Linked DNA regions of Homo sapiens: region 1 is linked to region 2. Evidence: fine-mapped expression QTL. A gene starts in region 2. The other region holds a variant in brackets. All regions are shown on one strand. Distances are between the middles of the regions. Region 1 overlaps CCDC158 (coiled-coil domain containing 158). Region 2 holds the start of STBD1 (starch binding domain 1).

What was found. PIP is the estimated chance that this variant, and not a neighbour inherited with it, causes the effect. A credible set is the group of variants that fine-mapping cannot tell apart.
Region 1: its variant is the best candidate, but not a certain one, in a credible set for the expression of STBD1 in whole blood (TOPMed, PIP 0.85).

Annotation. Positions count from the first base shown.
Region 1 is chr4:76,402,259-76,411,783 of GRCh38, reverse strand. CCDC158 (coiled-coil domain containing 158) reads left to right here. Exons shown (of 25, transcript NM_001394954.1): 3 at 8,504-8,646. The coding sequence starts at 8,577. Among named protein-coding and RNA genes, the nearest start is that of CCDC158, 14 kb to the left of the region's middle. The variant GA/A (reference allele first, on the strand shown) is at 5,228.
Region 2 is chr4:76,300,656-76,310,140 of GRCh38, reverse strand. STBD1 (starch binding domain 1) reads right to left here and starts at 3,408. Exons shown (of 2, transcript NM_003943.5): 1 at 3,152-3,408; 2 at 1-997. The coding sequence starts at 3,371. The coding sequence ends at 141. It overlaps FAM47E-STBD1 (FAM47E-STBD1 readthrough), which reads right to left. Exons shown (of 7, transcript NM_001242939.2): 7 at 1-997. The coding sequence ends at 968. RefSeq lists a cis regulatory region at 8,654-8,664 and an enhancer at 8,587-8,731.

The DNA of each region.
Region 1 (9,525 bases), 100 kb before region 2:
TGAAAAACACAACTGTAATTTCATTTAGTAAGGATGGAAATTGAGACTCAGAGATATGAAAAGGTCTGCCCATGCTCTCACAGTTAACCAATGACAGAATTAAGTTTCCTGATTCTAAGTTCTGTGCATCTTCCATATTGCCTCCCTGCTAGATGGTATTATGTATGGGTGAAATGCGATCGTAAGTAGCTTAATTCCGTATTACATTATAATAGTCCCTGTGTTTAGTCAATGCAGATTAAACCCACTTTCTTTTGTTAGTGGGCCTATATGAAACTCAATATTGCTCTTTATTATGGGAAAATGAGTTAGTTTACATACACTGCTTAAGTTATAAAGATAGTATTGGGATTTTGGGGTGCTTTTTTTGGTTTTTGTTTTTTTGAGATGGAGTCTTGCTCTGTCACCCAGGCTGGAGTGCAGTGGTGATCATGGCTGATTACAGCCTTGAACTCTTGGGCTCAAGGGATCCTCCCACCTCACCCTTCCACGTAGCTGGGACTACAGGCAAGTACCACCATGCCCGGCTAATTTTTTCATTTTTTGTAAAGACAGAGTCTCACTCTGTTGACCAGGCTGGTCTCTAAATCCTGGGCTCAAGTGATCCGCCCACCTTTGCTTCCCAAAGTGTTGAGATTACAGGCGTGAGCCACTGTGCCCTGCCAGATAGTATTGTTATTCATGTTATTGCTGTCCAATTATCTGGTACCTTGTATGTGTTGAGGCAGTTACTATGTAGGAAGGCCGCAGTTACTATGTAGGAAGGCCTGCACGTGAGTTATCTCAGTTAACTCTTATTCTTTTGAGGTATACACTCTTTTACCTTTTAAGCTGTATACTTTTTATCTCCCTCGTATAGTCATAGAGAGGTTAAATATTGTTCTCAAGGTGGCACAGCTAGTAGATCACAGAGCTAGGATTACAACATCCAGAGACTTGAAAGAGTGTGATTGAGAAAACAGACACTGAGAGCATGTGAAGTTAATAAGCAGCTAACAGCAATTCAGGTAGTACAATACTGTTCAACATGAATGGTTCTCCTTATTGTGTTTCTGAGATTGTACCAGCCCAGTATGTTTCTTTGAATCAGTCCCGAGGTACCTCAGAATTTCCCAAGGAAAACATACCTGCAGACTGGTTCTAGAAGAATGTAGATCAGTTCTGTAAGATCCCCAGTCTCAGGTTTCTGTGGAAGGTAGGGTGGTTCATCAACCTAGGAGCTTGAGTCAGTTGAAGAATCCAGGAATCTAAATAGAACATACATCATAAGTCATCTGTACGCAATCAAAATAGAACTTGGGCCAGGCCTGGTGGTTCACGCCTGTAATCCCAGCACTTTGGGAGGCTGAGGTGGGTGGATCACTTGAGGCCAGGAGTTCAAGACCAGCCTGGCCAACATGGTGAAACCCCATCTCTACTAAAAATACAAAAATTAGTTGGGCAAGGTGCCACATGCCTGTAATCCCAGCTACTCAGGAGGCTGAGGTGGGAGGATTGCTTGAACATGGGAGGTGGAGGTTGCAGTGAGCCAAGATTGTGCCACTGCACTCCAGCCTGGACGACAGAGCAAGACTCTGTCTCAAAACAAAAAAAAGGGATTCTAAATCAGTTATTCATTCTATGATAGTCACAGGAGAGGTCCACCTTAAGTAGTAGCCATACAAAAAGAAATCAAGGTGAGGATTATTCATACTAGGAAAAGTATAAGTGCACATCCACCAGGGCCTTTCGACTCCAAGGAGCAGGAGTCAGAACCCAGGAGGTACTTTTAAACGCTTTATCTCAGCTATATAACAAAGCCTAAGGCTTTAGGGAATTTTCCTCCAAAAGTTCCCTCTTTGTGGTCTGTGGTTTCTTAGACCTTTTTTTTTTTGGCAACATTCCAATCAAATAACTAGAGTAGAATAGATACACAGATATTACTTTTTATTTTTATTTTTATTTATTTATTTTTTGAGACAGTCTCGCTCTGTCACCCAGGCTGGAGTGCAGTGGCGTGATCTCCGCTCACTGCAAGCTCCACCTCCCGGGTTCACGCCATTCTCCTGCCTCAGCCTCCCGAATAGCTGGGAATACAGGCGCCCGCCACCACACCTGGCTAATTTTTTGTATTTTTAGTAGAGACGAGGTTTCACCATGTTAGCCAGGATGGTCTCTATCTCCTGACCGCATGATCCGCCTGCCTCAGCCTCCCACAGTGCTGGGATTACAGGTGTAAGCCACTGCTCCCGGCCTAGATACTACTTTTTAAAAATGTAAGGCTCCTTTTAATGTGAACCTGTTCATAATTTTAAATCAGGCAGAACTGTTCATAATAGACCTTCGGCATGTCAGAAGAGGCCAAGATCTCACCTCTGTATTTTACTCAGAGATTTAAAATAAACACATGTAAGTTCATGTTATGATCCCCAATTCAACCAAGTGCAGAGTTTTTTTTTTAACAATTTTATGATTTATTGAAGCAAAAAACCTTGCTTTTTCTAGAAATCTTTAATCATTTCATAAGCTTTATGCCTGAAAATAGGAAAAATATTTCAATTCCTATAGTGTCACAAAAGTAGAGAAACACTGATGACTTGACCAAATTCAGGATATATGGTCAGTCTAAAATAGTGAAAATGAATTACAAATATTATTTAAATGCAGATTTTCATTACTCTAAAATACACACACAAAATAACTACCAGCATTGGCAACAGAGATACTAAGCATCCTCTTTACAAATAAACAGTTGTTTTAAAATTCTTGTTGAAACCCCATCAAAAAGTGGGCAAAGGATATGAACAGACACTTCTCAAAAGAAGACATTTATGCAGCCAAAAGACACGTGAAAAAATGCTCATCATCACTGGCCGTCAGAAATGCAAATCAAAACCACAATGAGATACCATCTCACACCAGTTAGAATGGCGATCATTAAAAAGTCAGGAAACAACAGGTGCTGGAGAGGATGTGGAGAAATAGGAACACTTTTACACTGTTGGTGGGACTGTAAACTAGTTCAGCCATTGTGGAAGACAATGTGGCAATTCCTCAGAGATCTAGATCTAGAAATACCATTTGACCCAGCCATCCCATTACTGGGTATATATGCAAAGGATTATAAATCATGCGGCTATAAAGACACATGAACACGTGTTTTTATTGCGGCACTATTCACAATAGCAAAGACTTGGAACCAACCCAAATGTCCAACAATGATAGACTGGATTAAGAAAATGTGGCACATATACGCCATGGAATACTGTGCAGCCATAAAAAATGATGAGTTCATGCCCTTTGTAGGGACGTGGATGAAGCTGGAAACCATCATTCTCAGCAAACTATCACAAGGACAAAAAACCAAACACCGCATGTTCTCACTCATAGGTGGGAATTGAACAATGAGAACACATGAACACAGGAAGGGGAACATCACACACCAGGGCCTGTTGTGGGGTGGGGGGAGCGGGGAGGGATAGCATTAGGAGATATACCTAATGTAAATGACAAGTTAATGGGTGCAGCTCACCAACATAGCACATGTGTACATATGTAACAAACCTGCACGTTGTGCACATGTACCCTAGAACTTAAAGTATAATAAAAAAATATATATATATATACATATATGTATATAAAGAAGTGAAACTCCTGACTACTCTGGGCACACTGCTTATGGGGTAGCCCTGCTGCACAAGGAGCAGTAAAAAATAATAATAATAAAATTTTTTAATTAAAAATTTAAAAAAACAACTCTTGTTTAAGTGAATAAACCTATGCTGTCTTCTGTAAACTACTAATTTTCTAAGAAAAAAATTCCCCTTTGAAGGACTGCTGCTTTCCAACAGCCTGTTATGAATAACACAAGCATTCATAGTGAGTTATGATGAATAACGCAAGCATTCATCATCTTACGTCGAAGTAGACAAGTGTGGTTTCCACATCAGAATATTCTAAAGCCAAACCTTCCTCTTTCTTCTTTTCTCTACTCTCTAACTCCTATTTTCAATTCTGCTTACCTTGATCTTAGATTCTGTTTCCTGCTTAATACTAAAGTCTTTGATAGTGAATTACTATATGATTTGCCAGTATTTGGTTGTGGTTCTATATCTGTCCTACTCATTCCTTTATGCTTCTGATTGATCTCTAATTCATGATAACATTACTCAGCAATTTGAACTTTCTTAGTGTCATTCATTATCCTGAAGAATCCCAAAATGTATCATGTTAGTGTATCAGTAAAGTTATACAACAAACATTCACAATGAAACTCGTTTAAATGAGAAGGCATCCTTCTTGTACACAGCATAGAGTCGTTTTTTATAAGCCAATTTGAAAATCCTTTTCTTTCAATAGGCAAGGTTTTTTTTTCCTCAAGTAGCAGTCTCTTCTATTTAGAACATTTAAATTGCCTAGCAATCTTGACTAACATTCTATTTGTTATAATTCTTTATGGAATATCTCCCTACCTACTACTTACTTCCTAAAAAACGATAGCACGAAGCATATTAAGGTAGATATGTTCTATCGTTAATTGTAGTTTTGACAGGTGGCATCTCAGTAATCAAAAGGAAGAAAATGTGAGTGAAATAAAAATGAATTCCGTTTAATAAAAACTGTTAAGCTCAGGGTTTTTTTAAATTTTTAGAGACTTTATGCTTACAATCATGAATTAATGTAAAAATGATAAGCAGCGTGTTACATGATCTTCCTCTTCCCATCACTTTAGTGGTCCTCACCCACATCTATTTTGTTTTGTTTTTTAGAGAATGAAGATTTTGATTCATGAATTTGACTCATTGTTTTTCTTTTTTCTATCTTAATTTCTGCTTTTGCATTTATTATTTCCTACTTGTGCTTTCTTTTAGTTCACCCATTTTTCTATGTTTTTGTGTTAGACACTTAATGAATTTACTTTTATTATTTCATTTTTATTGATGTAGGTGTCCAGGGCTGGGAATTTTCATCTTTTTACTATTTTAATGTATGTCACAGATTGATATGTACTATTTTCATTATTATTTTTCAGAAATTATTTAATTTCAGCTTGTGTTTCCCTTATCACACAAGAGTTGTTTAATAGAAGGCCTTTTAATTTCCAGGTAGAAAGACCTTTTTAATTTGGAGATTTTGATTTTAATTTTTAGCTTTATTATACTGTGACCAGAAGGTGTTGTTTGTAACATTTCTACTTTATGGAAACCTACTTTATGGAACCTACTGATTTGTGCCCTAGAATATGACT[GA/A]TTTTTGTGAATGTTTCATGTGCCCTTGGAGAGGAAAGTATATTGTCTGTTATCAAAGTATAGTGTTTAATATATAGCCAAAAGGTCTACCTTAGTGATTAGTTCTTCTAAATCTTTTATATCTCTACTTATTTTTTGTCCACTTGGCCTGTCTCATACTAATTGTCCGTTAAAGCCTCCCATTATTACTGCGTTTGCAGTTCTTACCGTATCTTCTGTGGATTTATGCTTTATCCAAGTGATTGCTGTGTTATATGGTACATATCTTTATTGTGCAATGTGGCTTTTAACTTCAAGTGCACTGCAATTTGTTTTAGTTAATGCTCTCTGGCTTGAAGACAACTTAGTCTGGTATTAGGATTTTAACCCGTGCTTTCTTGTTGTTTTCATTTGCCTGGCAATTTTTGTTCATCCTTTTATTTTTAGTCTTTTTGAATCTCTGCGTGTGTTTTTAGGCATACTTTTTTGTACATAGCAGGGTTGTTTTTTTTAAAGTCAATTTGAAAATCCTTTTCTTCCAATAGGCAAGTTAAGTCCTCTTACATTAATCAACATGACTGTTTGGTCTAAATTCTGTGGTATTTTTTTCACATCATTCTATTATCTTGTGGGTGTAATTACTGAATGTGTTATATTTGCTAGAGTTTCTTTATTTGGTGTTTCTTCTTTATGTTTCCATTTAAAATTCTTTGTCATTTAAGAAGGTTTGTATTTTTACTCTAGTGGTTACTTTTGTACTTATGCTTTTTATAGTGCACTTTTAAACCTGCTTTTTCTTACTTGACCTTTTACTTTTTCTCAGTTTTAAGTGGTGTCCTTTGACTGCTGTCTATTCCATTTTAAGTCAATGGTCTTTTACTTTCCACTTTTCTCCCTCTTCCTTCCGTTTTTAGTTACATTTATTCTCCTTTGTCATGCACATAATATTTATATCGCTATTCAGTGCCATTACCTCACCTTTGTTTTTCTCAACTCTATAATTGAGTATTTAAATATTCACCATCAGTCCCCTTGCAGTTTTCCCGGTCTTGTTTTTTAAATGTTTGTCTTTATCCTTTTTTTCCAAATTTACTTTTAAAAATTTAGAACCTACACAAAACCTTGAAGATCTTCACCAGTTGTAGACACTGCCACATTTTACAGTGGTCTTCTGGGTGAATGAGGCTCATCTTCTCTAGTAGAATCCTCAGCAGAGGCACACGGCACAGTGTCCCGGTACAGTCAAAACTGCTTTTTTGTGGCTTCAAACCTTTTGAGGGACATCTTGGCTGGCTGTAATATCCTTGGTTTGTCCTTTCTTTCCCTTCTTGAAAGTACTACTACACTCTTGCCTTACTGTGTGTATTGTTTTTTAATAACCTGGTGCCAGTCTAATCTTCTTGCCTTTGTAAATTATTTCATCTTTTTTGCCTGGACACACTGAGGATTTTTTCATTATCTTTAAAGTCTTAATATTGTATTACTAGTGTATGTCTCAGAGTTTATCATTCTTGATCACTTTTCCCTGATATGGAAAATGTGTAGATTCGGGTCTTTATTTCTAGAAAATTTTCTTGGATTATAGTTTTAAATAGTAGTTCTGTTTCATGTTTTTCCTTTAGGAAACCCAGTTGTATTATATTCAACCTCATTTACCTGTCTTCAATTTCAGTCCTCTCTCACTCCTTTTTTTTGTCTTCTTTTCTTCCTTTTTGTGGAGAATGGGGTCTTGCCCTGTTGCCCAGGCAGTTCTTGAACTCCGGGGTTCAAGCTATCCTCCTGCTTCTGCATCTCTAAGTGCTGGGATTACAGGCATGAGCCACCACACCCAGCTCTCACCCTTTTTACTTCTTTATTTTATTTTTTATTCTCATGGTGGCTTTCCTGATTTTCTTCAGTGCCTTTATTAAATTTTTATTACAACCTGTCATCGCTTGTGTACTTTGTGATTCAGTCTTTATTTCTGATATAGTTTTGTTTTTTATTTCTCTGTCTTTCCTAACTTTAATCAACTCTCATTTCATCTCTTCCTGTTTGTTTGTTTGTTTGCTTGTTTTGTTTCTTGTCCATTTTTATTCTTTGGCTTTACATTTCTAATTCAGGGGTGATTTTTCATACCCTAAATTCTTGTTTGAGCCTACTGGGTTCAGTTTGGAGTATTATGTTTCAGTTTTCTTTGGCTTCATGTTTGTTGTTTGTGGGAGAGACTTTTCATCAGCAGAAAAGATTGTATTCATGTTTTCTGACATTTTGCAGTAGATATAGTCTGCTTTTATCTATTCCTATTCATTTTGTGGACAAGGGTCCTACTTTGAGACTGCCTTCTGCCATGCACTTTCTTTATGGGTAGTGGTGTTGGGTGGGAAGGATGGAAGAAGGGTGGTATATCTAGCTTGTGTTTTGCTTCTGCTGGTTCCTTGGTGTTCCTCTCTCATTTCCTTCTTTCCCTTGACTGCCATGTCCCTAGGGGAGACCATTTTTTCTCTCTGTATCTCATTCACCCCAAGAAACCCTGCTTCTCTGAGGCCGCTACTTCTTCAAACCCTTACCCCATTGTCAGGGCTATGGACTATCAAGTTCCAACCTGTGCTTAATATTTTGGCCTTTACTTTTTCACCTCTGGGGATGAATTTATCTGTACTTTTTCTGTCTTCTGCTTACCTCTTCCCTCCCATTTTCTGTACCCCTAGGCTTGTAGTGTTGGTAGGTGGGCTGCGGGAATTGTTTTGGAAAAAGATTTCCCTGTACTTGCAGATTATTTGAAGGTTGTGGTACTCTCTGTCTTCCAGTGATGCTAGGGGTGTGGAGTGCCTGGTTGATTTTATGGTTATTTGGGAAGATGTGAGGAAGATTTGAAATCAGACCACCACCATTGTTCTCCACATTTAGAATTCTCCTCTTAGCTTAAATGAAAATTGTGAGCACTATTTGACATCAGAGAAGTTCTTCAACTTTTATTAGTGACTTCCATTTTGATGATTTGTGGTTTTTGCTAAGGAGATATTTTCTTCCATTATTTGATGGTGTAACCTTATGAGAAACCTCTACAATAATTAGTTTCTTATTTTCAGGTTGTCTTTAATAATGTACTTGGCTATTAAAATCAATAATTTTCACCATAAGATTGTATTCACTTATTAATTTTATGTAATATAATGTATTTCTGTATAAATAATTATTTTTCTGGAGAAGAAATTATTACTAAATTTCAATGTTAAAAAGTCAGTTCCTGTTCTTCTATGAACTTTTTTCACATAGTACCTTGTTAATAAAGATTGAATCTCTGTCTTTCATAGACAGGAACCAAAAGAACCAAAGAGGGAACCATTCATACTTCAAGATCTCTAATAAGAAGTAGCAATATTTAATATGGAATCAAAAGCTTGGGAATCAAATAATGAAGATCTTTTATCAAGTAGTGGTGTCACATCTAATGGAGGTATGTGCTGTTTATAAAACAAAATGGGGAAAAAATAGAATTAACCATGATATTCATTCAAGCTGCTGTTTCTAGTATGTTTTATTTTTAACCATGTGGGTTACAGACCATGATCATGAATGTCTACCATATTGTTTATAATTCTACTTTTTGAAGAAGAGATTCCTTTGTCTTTTAAGGAATTTTTTGTTTTAAAAATGTTTCTACATTGAAGTACTTCAGCCTCAACATGCCCCATGCCTCCCTAATGCCTTCTCTTCCTCCTGTGTCTTCCTAGCCTGCCTTCCTTGGTCTGCCCTAAGTCAGAATTTTGTATCATTTCATTCTTTTTCCTCACCTGCTGCTACATCCAGTCAGGTACTGAGGCCCTGCTGATTTTACCTTTGAAATGTCTCTTGAATCCATTTTTTCCCTCTCCATTTCCATTACTGGTGTTCTGGTTCAGGCCCCCATCACCTCTGATCCAAATTATTTCAATCAAAGGTGATTCCTATGTCAGGAAAACAGACACAGATGGAATAAATAGTTGGAATTTAATACAAGGAATGGTTACATAGGTGTTGAAAGAGCTGCAAAGCCTAAAGGGATGAAACAACACAGAAATTACCAACTGCAAGAAGCTGCTACCAACCATGCCTTTGGCTAGAAGGACAATGAGAAAAGCAGCTGTTGCAAGGGCATGGAAGCTAGAGGTAGAACCACGGAGAGGGCTGCCTGGAAGGAGCTGAAGCCACCACCAACTACCAGATCCTCATCTGAGACAGTGAGAGGACCATGACCTTGGCTTCCCCTCTTCTGCTGCCTCCAGCTCTTCTGCGAGCTCTTCCCATTGCAAACCTATGTGGAAGAGAACTAGAAAGGGAACCTACAACACTCAAC
Region 2 (9,485 bases):
TAGACAAAATCCACTAGCAAATTTAAACAATTCAGATGGCTGAATTTGGAGTCACACTGCCTTTATTTTATTCAGTGTGTTCCACAACCTCAGCCTCTTCCACATTGTTCTACAGCTTCTCCATTACTTTGCAAACTGAATCAGTGAATCCCCCACCATGCGTGAACCACTTTATCCTCATGGCCAGTTTCTAGGAATCTATTGCTGCATTCTTCCCAGCGGGTAACTCCCCCATTCTCTACCAACACAAACTTCCACTCCACCACTGTATCTGCAGGCAGGAAAATGGAATGAGACCAGAACCCATCCTTGTTATAGTGGAGTGGGATGTAAGTGTTCCATCTCCCAAGACACTCATGGTCTCCAGTTACTGCAATGAATTGCACATCAGTGCTTGTGACATAATGGACCTGGAACCTGACACTAACTTGCTGAGACCCTGCAGGCATCACTGCTACCCTTTCCATTTTCCCATGCACTTGCTGACCTCTTGCTTCCACCAAAGTGCTTCTTCCATTGTCCATTCCCTGGTTTAGGTTTAACACTGGAGCCTTAAGACTGCCACCCACACCAACATCCCCCCAAGATGAGTGCCTAGGCACCATTTCCCACTCCTCGTGGTCAACCCGGTCCTGACTGTTCAAATCAGAGAGGCTCATTTCTTCTTTAGCTCTGTTCTTGAGCAGGTTGCTAGAAGGCAACTTCTCTGCAAAACATGTAGCTGCTTTAGCAGATATCTCTTGTCCTTTTTGGAATCCCCATTCTCCCATAGGAGATTCAAGGCTTTCATTTCTTGAAACTTCAGAGTAACTCCTAGAGTTACTGGTCTCAGAGGTAGCTGGAGCTTCTGTGTCTGGAAACTGTCCAGAAGGAACATGTTCTCTTGAATTGTCACAGACTTCCCTGGAAGGATTCTGCAATCTCCATGATGCTGCTTGCAGTTTACCAAGGTCTTTGGTCTTAGAAATCAAATGTCCATTGCTTTCTTGAAGATGCTCTAAGAAATCAAAGGAAAAATGTAATAGAGTCAGGTAGTTCATTTAAGAAAAAAGTCAGGCTGAGAAAATAGATTTAGTTACTGAAAGCTTTACTACTAATCAATCTGCAATTCACAAAGTCCCCCTCTATTAAAATCAAGTACTACTTAATTAACCAGTATGCTCCCAACACTGTGCTCTAAGAATACACATGTATATCTGACAACAAAAGGGACATCCAGGAGTATCAGTGTGCCAGCACAAGTGTAAATGAAGTGGTAAGCTGTAGAGGCAGACGTGTAACCCCCCCATGGTCCCCAGTCTCCACAGTCCAGGCCATACTGGCATGCAGCCAAGTTAAGTTGCTTGGCTCCTATCATCAAAGAATGTTGTCCAGGCTGTGGGGCAAAGGGCTGCGTGGCTACGTTACAAACCAGAAGAGTACACTTGTTCTCCCAGGGGAGGCATGCAGGGCAGGGATTGGCTCTCGCAGACCTGCGGGCAGATCAGCAGGAGCTGTCACCTTGGGGAGATACGGAGAACAGTAGTGCTTCCCTGGGCAGGAGTGGAGGGAGAACTGGGGGAAGGGGCTGGTTTCTCCTTGCCAATCCCATATGCGTTAGGAACCTCCCCAACAAAACGGTGTTTTGTATCCCCTTCCATTGTAAGCATTTTTTAAAAAACGTTCTTAAAAATACAAAATCCAAGTCCTCTAAAAATGCAGTTTCCTTCTTGGCCATGCCATTGGTAGTCCAAATAGCTCCCTACAAGATTGAAATCTCCAAATCATACATACAATCAGCACAGCTGTGGTTTTATGTGGTGTGGGGGTGGTGGTGGTATGGGGACAACAGTCTTGTTTCATTTTATCCCTTTTTTTTTTTTTTTTTTGAGATGGAGTCTCGCTCTGTCACCCAGGCTGGAGTGAGTGCAGTGGTACGATTTCGGTTCACTGCAACCTCTGTCTCCCGGGTTCAAGCGATTCTCCTGCTTTAGCCTCCCAAGTAGCTGGGACTACCGGCGCCTACTACCACGCCCAGCTAATTTTTGTACTTTTAGTAGAGACAGGGTTTCACCATATTGGCCAGGCTGGTCTCGAACTCCTGACCTTGTGATTTGCCCGCCTCGGTGATGGTGGGAGTTGGAAGTGAGAATGAACAAATATTATTCTGGATTCCCAACTTTTCAACCTAAAGCATGAGATTGGTCTTCAGAAAAAAGATAAGTGAACTGTCTAGGCATCCCAGACCAATCACAGTAAAGGCACACGGGCAGATTTTCATATGGCTGCACATGAACACCACTGGGCTAAAAATAAAGTTCACAGATGTCATTTTCACCATTAGGCTTCTGTCCAGGCATGGGCAGCTTGCCAAGGGAGGGCACTGGACGGTAAGCTTTTCTGCCAGTGTTCGCTCTCTGCTTAGCAAACGGTCCCTAAAATACAGAAATTTAAACCCAGATGTCAATTCTACTCATCAGGGTTGGGTCCCCTATTTAAGTAGTCCCTTCCTAGGGATGACTATCCGGCCCTATTCTGGGGCAGCGTGGAGGGGACTGCCGACAGTGCTGAAAGGGGTGACCAAGGCACATCCCCAGGGCCTCAGCCACAGCCTTCATGGCCAGAGTCCAACCTGAACTTTGCCTTCCTAAAGAAGCATCCAGATAGCAGGAGGCGCCCGCAGTTCGGGTGTTCCCAAACCCAGCTCTTCATGGGCTGTGCGATGGGAGGATGTCAGACTACCCGGATTGGGACTTAGAAAATGTCCCTGCTTGGGCAGAGATCGAAGAGGCTTGTAGGATCCCCTAAACCTAAGCCCCCCTTTCCAAAGGCCGGGAAGGGGCGCCGCCACTGCAGCCGCCCGCACTGCACCAAGCGCCGCCAAGTGGAGGAGCTCATCCCCGCCGGAGGGGCAGGACCAAGTCCTCAGGCGCGGGCGCTGAGGGACTCGGCAAGGGCGCGGCCCTTGGAGGACCAGACAAGAAACCTGCCTGCGCGTACCAACCAGCCTGGGAAACCGAGGGGCGTGGGGATGGCCCAGTCCCCTTAGGAGAGCCCGTCCGCAGGAATGGGCCCCTAGGAAAGCTCCAGGTGGGTTTGTCTCTTTGCTCCCTTCCTCGATGAACCTCAAAGCTCTGGCAGATGTGCCCTGGAGTCACGGGGGGAAGAATACCTGGTTTGGTGACCAGCTCCTGCCCGGAAGGTCCAGGGCTCAGTCCGCTGCTGCCACTCTGATGGCCTCCCGGAATCGCAGCTCCCCCAAGAGGGGCGTCTTTCTCCTGCTCCGCATCCCCGTCCTTCCCGGTGTCGCCAGGGCCGCCCCGCAGCAGCCAAACGAAAAGTGCTCCGGCCAGACCCCCTCCAACCAGCAGGGCGGACCAGACGGCGCCCATGGCTGAGAGGCCGCGGCCGCAGGAGACTACAGGGACTGGGACCGGGGCTCAGGTCACGCACACAGAGCCACACCTACCCCGCCCGCTCCAGCCTTTTACGGTTTCTGCGCCGGGCACTCCGGCGGAGCCCGGCCCTGAGCGACCAGTACTCAACTTTCCCAGCCCCGCCCCGCTCCCCGCCCCTGGGCTGCAGCCCCGGGCTCCCTCCCGGGGAAGACTCCAGCGCTCTTCTGTCCCTACACTTTCTGTTCCCGGCCTTGCCAGTTGCCAGCGGCCAGGGGCGCAGGGGTCGGCGTTCCACGTGTGTCCCGCGTGAAGAACCCAAGTGCGCACAACTGCCCCGCGCAGCCGGGACCTGCCCCACCGCCCTTCCTTCTTCCGCCTGCTGCCCGCGAGGCCCAGCCCTGCCTCGGCCCGCACCGGGCACCTCGGCGCCTTCTCCCCAGGGAAGCTCAGCAGCAACGCGGTCAGCTAGAGGCCGAGAGCTTCCTGGAACTTAGAGGTGGGAGAGGCCGCGGGCGTCGGTGACGCGCGGGCTGGAGCGCGGGCTAGAGCGGTGGCGCGTTCGGGTGGGATGGGTGGCCCGGAGGACGGCGGGCGCGGTGCGGGGAAACTGGGAGCCCTAGTGGAAGCTCCGCTCCGCCGCCAGCTCAGCGCGCTTAGCCTCCCCAAGCTTCCGCCTCCTCGCCTGTAAAATGGAAGGACTGGACTGAGGACCATCCATCTAAAGATGCCAGTCAGCTCAATCACATCCAGTCTCGTCCTCTTTGGGCGTGTATGGCTGCTGCGAAATGCGCACGCATCTGTATGAACTGGATGTTGTCCATGGACGAGCTCCTACAGATAAGTTTGTTAATAAAAACAGCAGCTCTTTATTAAGCACTGTCTGTATTCCGGATGTTTTAAGTGTGTATTTAATTTAATCCTCACAAGACAACAACCCTGTGCGGTGTTATATATATTTCTTTGTAAATCCTTTCCTCTGCTGATCTGATGACTTTGCACAACAGCTTCAAGCTGATGATCCCCACGTCTATGTCTGCAGCTCACACCTTTCCCTTGGACTCCGACATTCAACTGCTAAAGGCCACAGATACCAAACACCTGCCTTGGAGTAATTGCTATAATTGCTCTCTCTGGTAGGGCAAATTATCTAATGTGCCCCTTGCTCCGAATGGACAGTAGCCCTTAACGGGGTGCAAGGTTCTGCCAGTGGGGTTACTGGAAGGCTGATGCACGCCTTGATGCAGGCCACAACTTCTGTAATCATAAGAGAGGAGGTAGAGGAGAGGTGAGGGCGAAGACTGCCTACTGGGCATCTCCTCGTGGATGTCTAATAGACATCTCAAACCCAACTCATCCAGACCTGAACTCCCCACCTAACTCCCCAAACCTACTACTCTCCCCACCTTCCCCATCTCAGGAAGTGGCAACCACATCCTTCCCATTGCTGCAAAACAAAACACAGCAAGCTCCCACAGGCCACTTTCAAACCACCAGTCAGCGTGATCCTGTTAAAACACCCCAGTTCTCTGCTCAAGACCCTCCAGTTGCTCCAGATCACACGGAAGAACCTTTAAGACCCTACAGGATCTGTTCCCCATGACCACTGTGCACTCATCTCCATCTTGCCACCTTCAACCACACTGGCTTCCTTGCCTAGAGTCATCCTTCCTGCAGACATCCTCTCTCTCTCATCCCCTTTAGGTCTTGGCACAAGTGTCATCTGCATCCCCACTACCCCCTCCCCTGCCCAGCCCTTCCTTGACAATCCCAGTTTTAATTACAATCCTACTCCCTATATCCTTCCCCTGCTCCATTGTTCTCATTAGCACTTAGGGCGTCATTTCTAATACACTCTATAATCTGTGTGTCTGTGGTTTAATTTCTCTTTCCTCCCTTCAGAGTGTAAATGACAGCGGGGATGGTTGTCCTTTGTTCTCTGCTGAATTCTTAGCACCTGTAACCTCTCCGGAGTGAGCGCTTAGAAGTACAGGTTGAATGAATGAATTAAAAGCCCCAGGTAATTTCACCCTAGAGCATTATTGGCATTTTTCTTACGTAGATTCCATATGCATTTTTAGCCCATGTGGATATTACCGTTCCTTGAAATTCATTTTATGTATAATAAAAAGTAACCGTAAAGCTATATTTTTAAGAGAATGAATGTCACTGTATAAAATAAGATTCTTTCAGCCTGGGCAGCATAGCAAAACCCTGTCTCTATGGAAAAATACAAAAATGAGCTGGGCAAGGCAGTGGCGCCTATAGTCCCAGCTACTCAGGAGGCTGAGGATCACTTAAGCCTGGGAGGTGAAGGCTGCAGTGAGCCATGATCATGCCACTGCACTCCAGCCTGGGTGACAGAGGGAGACTGTCTCAAAAAATCTGATAAAAATATAAGATCCCTTGCATGTGCGGTTCACATAGGGTTTGTGCTCCTATGAGAGTCTAATGCCGCTACTGATCTGATAGGAGGTGCAGCTCAGGCTGTAATGTTCACTTGCCAACCACTCACCTCCTTACTGTGCAGCCTGCTTCCTAACAGGCCTCAGACCAAGGTCTGGGGACTCCTGTCTAAGGGATAAAAATCCCAGAGAATCTGTAAAATCCTTCAGATGTAAGCCCCACTATTCACTTATAATACCTAAAAGGCTCTTAATATTTATTGCTGTCATAAATGTCCATTCATTTATTTAAAATAATACCAAAAATTATTTTCTCAACCCATCAGAATTATTTTTACATTGTATCATATTGATCATGCAACATTTTTTTTAATTTACTTTTTTCTTTGGGAATCCCAAGAAGCTAATGCAACATTTTTAAAGAACATTATTTGGCCTTCCTTTTGGCTTTTCCAAACTTAAGTGCTGGCTCATTAATTTCTGTGTTGCTGCTCTTTTAAAAAATGCTCCAATCATAGTCATATGTTTATATTAAAGGTTCATAGCCACATATCCTAAAAACATTCTTGCCGCACTGATGATACCCATGCTTATCGCTATACACTTGCAAAACAATCATGTTTGCCTCCATATAGAAAACTGTGAGTGCCTAGGAAGATAGTGTTGTCAGGGAGCAAAAAAGGCAAGAACGGTTGTGCGGACAAAGGAGGAAGATGATGAGTTCTGCTGGGACGTGTTAAATTGGAGGCACGAGCAGGAAGTTGGAACTCGGTTTCTTTAGTTTAAGAGGATCAAGGCTGGAGATGTTGGAAATTCTGCATAGAGATGTGGTAATTAAATCCATAGTAAAGATTAATGTTATAAAGAGAAATGAAGGATGGATGAGCCCTTGACACAATTGCAAGAAGAAAGATTGGGAAGTTGCCTCCATGTTGCTATTTATATTGCAATTCTGTCTTGAGATTATATTTTATGGGCCATAATGTAGAACCCGTTTTCTAATTGATATTATTCTATTTAATAAAGTATGAATAGATATAGATGGATATTTTAAAGTTTATTTTATTATATATTTTTTCCTTTAAACTTATGCAAGAAAAGATTGCTCAATCCTGGCTTAGAGGGATGAGGACAGAACAATGAAAAGCAACTCTGTTTGCAAAGTCAGAGAGACTAAAGACTGTGGGAAGGAAGAGCCAGAGAAGAAGGAGAACCAAAATCAGATAAGAAAAGCAGTTCAAGAAGGTGGCCAGGAGAGGGAATGGAGGCATTGCTTTGCAGAACTGAAGTTGATAGAGAACTGAAGGGAAAATGGTTGCAATTGGCACATAAGAGGCCATCAGTAGCTCTGGAGTGTTTGTGGGGGTGGAAGTTGGATTTCAGAATGCTAAGATATAAATGTTGTGAAAGGATAAGAAGTCCAGCATTGAGTTATCTCTCTCTTGAGAAACGTGGAGGCAATAGGTTGGAGAGAAATTGAAGGGTTGCTTAAGAATAGAACAGGATACCCAGCACTTTGGGAGGCCGAGGTGGGAGGATCTCTTGAGGACAGGAGTTCGAGACCAACCTGGGCAACACAGGGAGACCCCCCCCCCCCACCTTCCACCAACCCCCCCCCCCCAAAAAGAAAAAGAAAAGAAATAGACCAGGACTCAGGGCAGTTCCTATAAACCAAGAGAGATTTAAGCACGATTGGGAGCAGGAAAGAGCCAGTGGAGACTGAGCTTGAAGACATGAGAAGCAGAGGAAATATTTTTTCATTGGACTTTCATAAGGCACAAGAGGGAGATGGGTCAGGAATGCCAGTGGAAGAATTGGCCTTCAATGAAGGAAAGAGATTAGAAGGGCATGAAAAAAAGAAAAGAATGAAAATAAGAGACATTTTGTGCCACAAAGGAAGTAGTCAATGAGGTTATCAGCTGAGTGGGAGAAAGAAAATCTGGCTGGAGTTTTAAGAAAAGCAGAGAAAGTAGATAATGACCACTGGGAGAAGACATGGCCAGTAGAAGAGGTGTCTCTGCATAGTCCTGTTGCCTCTCCACAGTGGGGTATAATAAGAAAGAGATTTGGTCTTGTCCTTTTGTTGCTGGCACAGAGAGCGTAGAACCCTTGGGATTTGTTATTCCTAATGGGATCCTTTCGATCACACCAGGTTTTCTCTTATGGTATCAGTATCTTTGAGGTTTGTCTCATCCCTAGTTTAGATCATAAATCCCTTGCTGGTCACAGCTTGGACATCTTTCTATTCCCTGGAATGTCAAGGCTATCATCTAATAGGCCTTCTTTTTATTGTTTTTGTTTATTGAATAACTAAAATATGCAGGCACCAGGCTAAGTGCTTTATAAAGATTATCTCATCCTTATAAATGGAATGCTTGGAGGGAAGTAATCTGGTCAAGGTCATACAGTTAATGAGTGACTGAGCTAGGATTTGAACCCGGTGTTCTGATCCCCAGGACCTGCTCTGAAACCCTAGCTACACTGAAGTCTGATGATTCTTAAACTATGTTCAAATTTCAAAGCATAGATTTTAGAAGTGAGTGTGCAAATTTGGATGTGTTATACTAGAGAACCCTTATGGTTGTGTTTCAGTGTTTGTGGTGACTCTCAGACTTGTTCTTGATCTGTAATAACTCTGCAACCCCTCTCTCCATTAGGGGAATGCACTTATCACCCTCAGCACCTGTCCATTGCTGTCAGACCTCTGGCTCCTGGGGAGCCACATAACATTAACCACAAGTACAACCTCTCTGCAAAGCAGTCACATTGGAGCTGCCCAGTTTCAGGTTTCACAGAGACATTTTCTAACTGAAACTGTTTGCAAACCTCTGACTCATCTTAGTTCCAGAATAGACTCAAGGCTGACATCAGTCATGCTAAGTCATTAAAACTTTAGAAAAGGGAGATCTGTGTTAGACAACTAGCTCACTATCTACAGAAAAATAAAGCTGGATTACTACTTTGTACCACATAAATGCTGAACTCCAGATGAAATAAAGTCCTAAATGTAAATGGTAAAACTATGAATAGAACAAAATCCAGGAAACTGGCAATGTGACATTGCCTAACATAGGAGGCCAAAAACATTTTGACTTCATTAAAATGATGCTATCTGGTCAATGAAGGGTGCCATAAACAGTTACCAGATAGAGCCAAACTGGGGGAAGATATTTGTGTTGTCTAAAACTGATAAGAGATTAATACCTAGCTCTACAATGAACTCGTACAAATTGGCAAGAAAAAGACGCAAGATCCAATATAAAAATGGACGAGGGACGCTCTTTCCTCAGTGCCCAGAACAATGACTGGAACATAATAGGCACAATAATTTTTGGCTGAATAAAATTAGACACAAAAAATGCTTAAACTCATTGATAGTCAGAAAAATGCAAATTAAAACAATGATATGCCATTTTACATCCATCAGAGAGACAAATATTAGAAAGAAGTTGTGTGGTGCTGCTGTTGGGAGAGCCAACAGGTACAAACACTCTGGAAGAGTGTTGTGAAGCTAAGTATGCACATAGCCAATGGCTGTGCAATCCCACTCCTCAACATGTAGGCCCAGGGAAAAATGTGCACAAGACTATAAGGGACATACAGTGTTACTTGGGCCAACGGCAAGTTCAAAGCCCCTGGCTGTTCATCATAGGGTAATAACTAAATAAAATGCGATAGATGCCTATGAAATACTATGCGGTAGTTA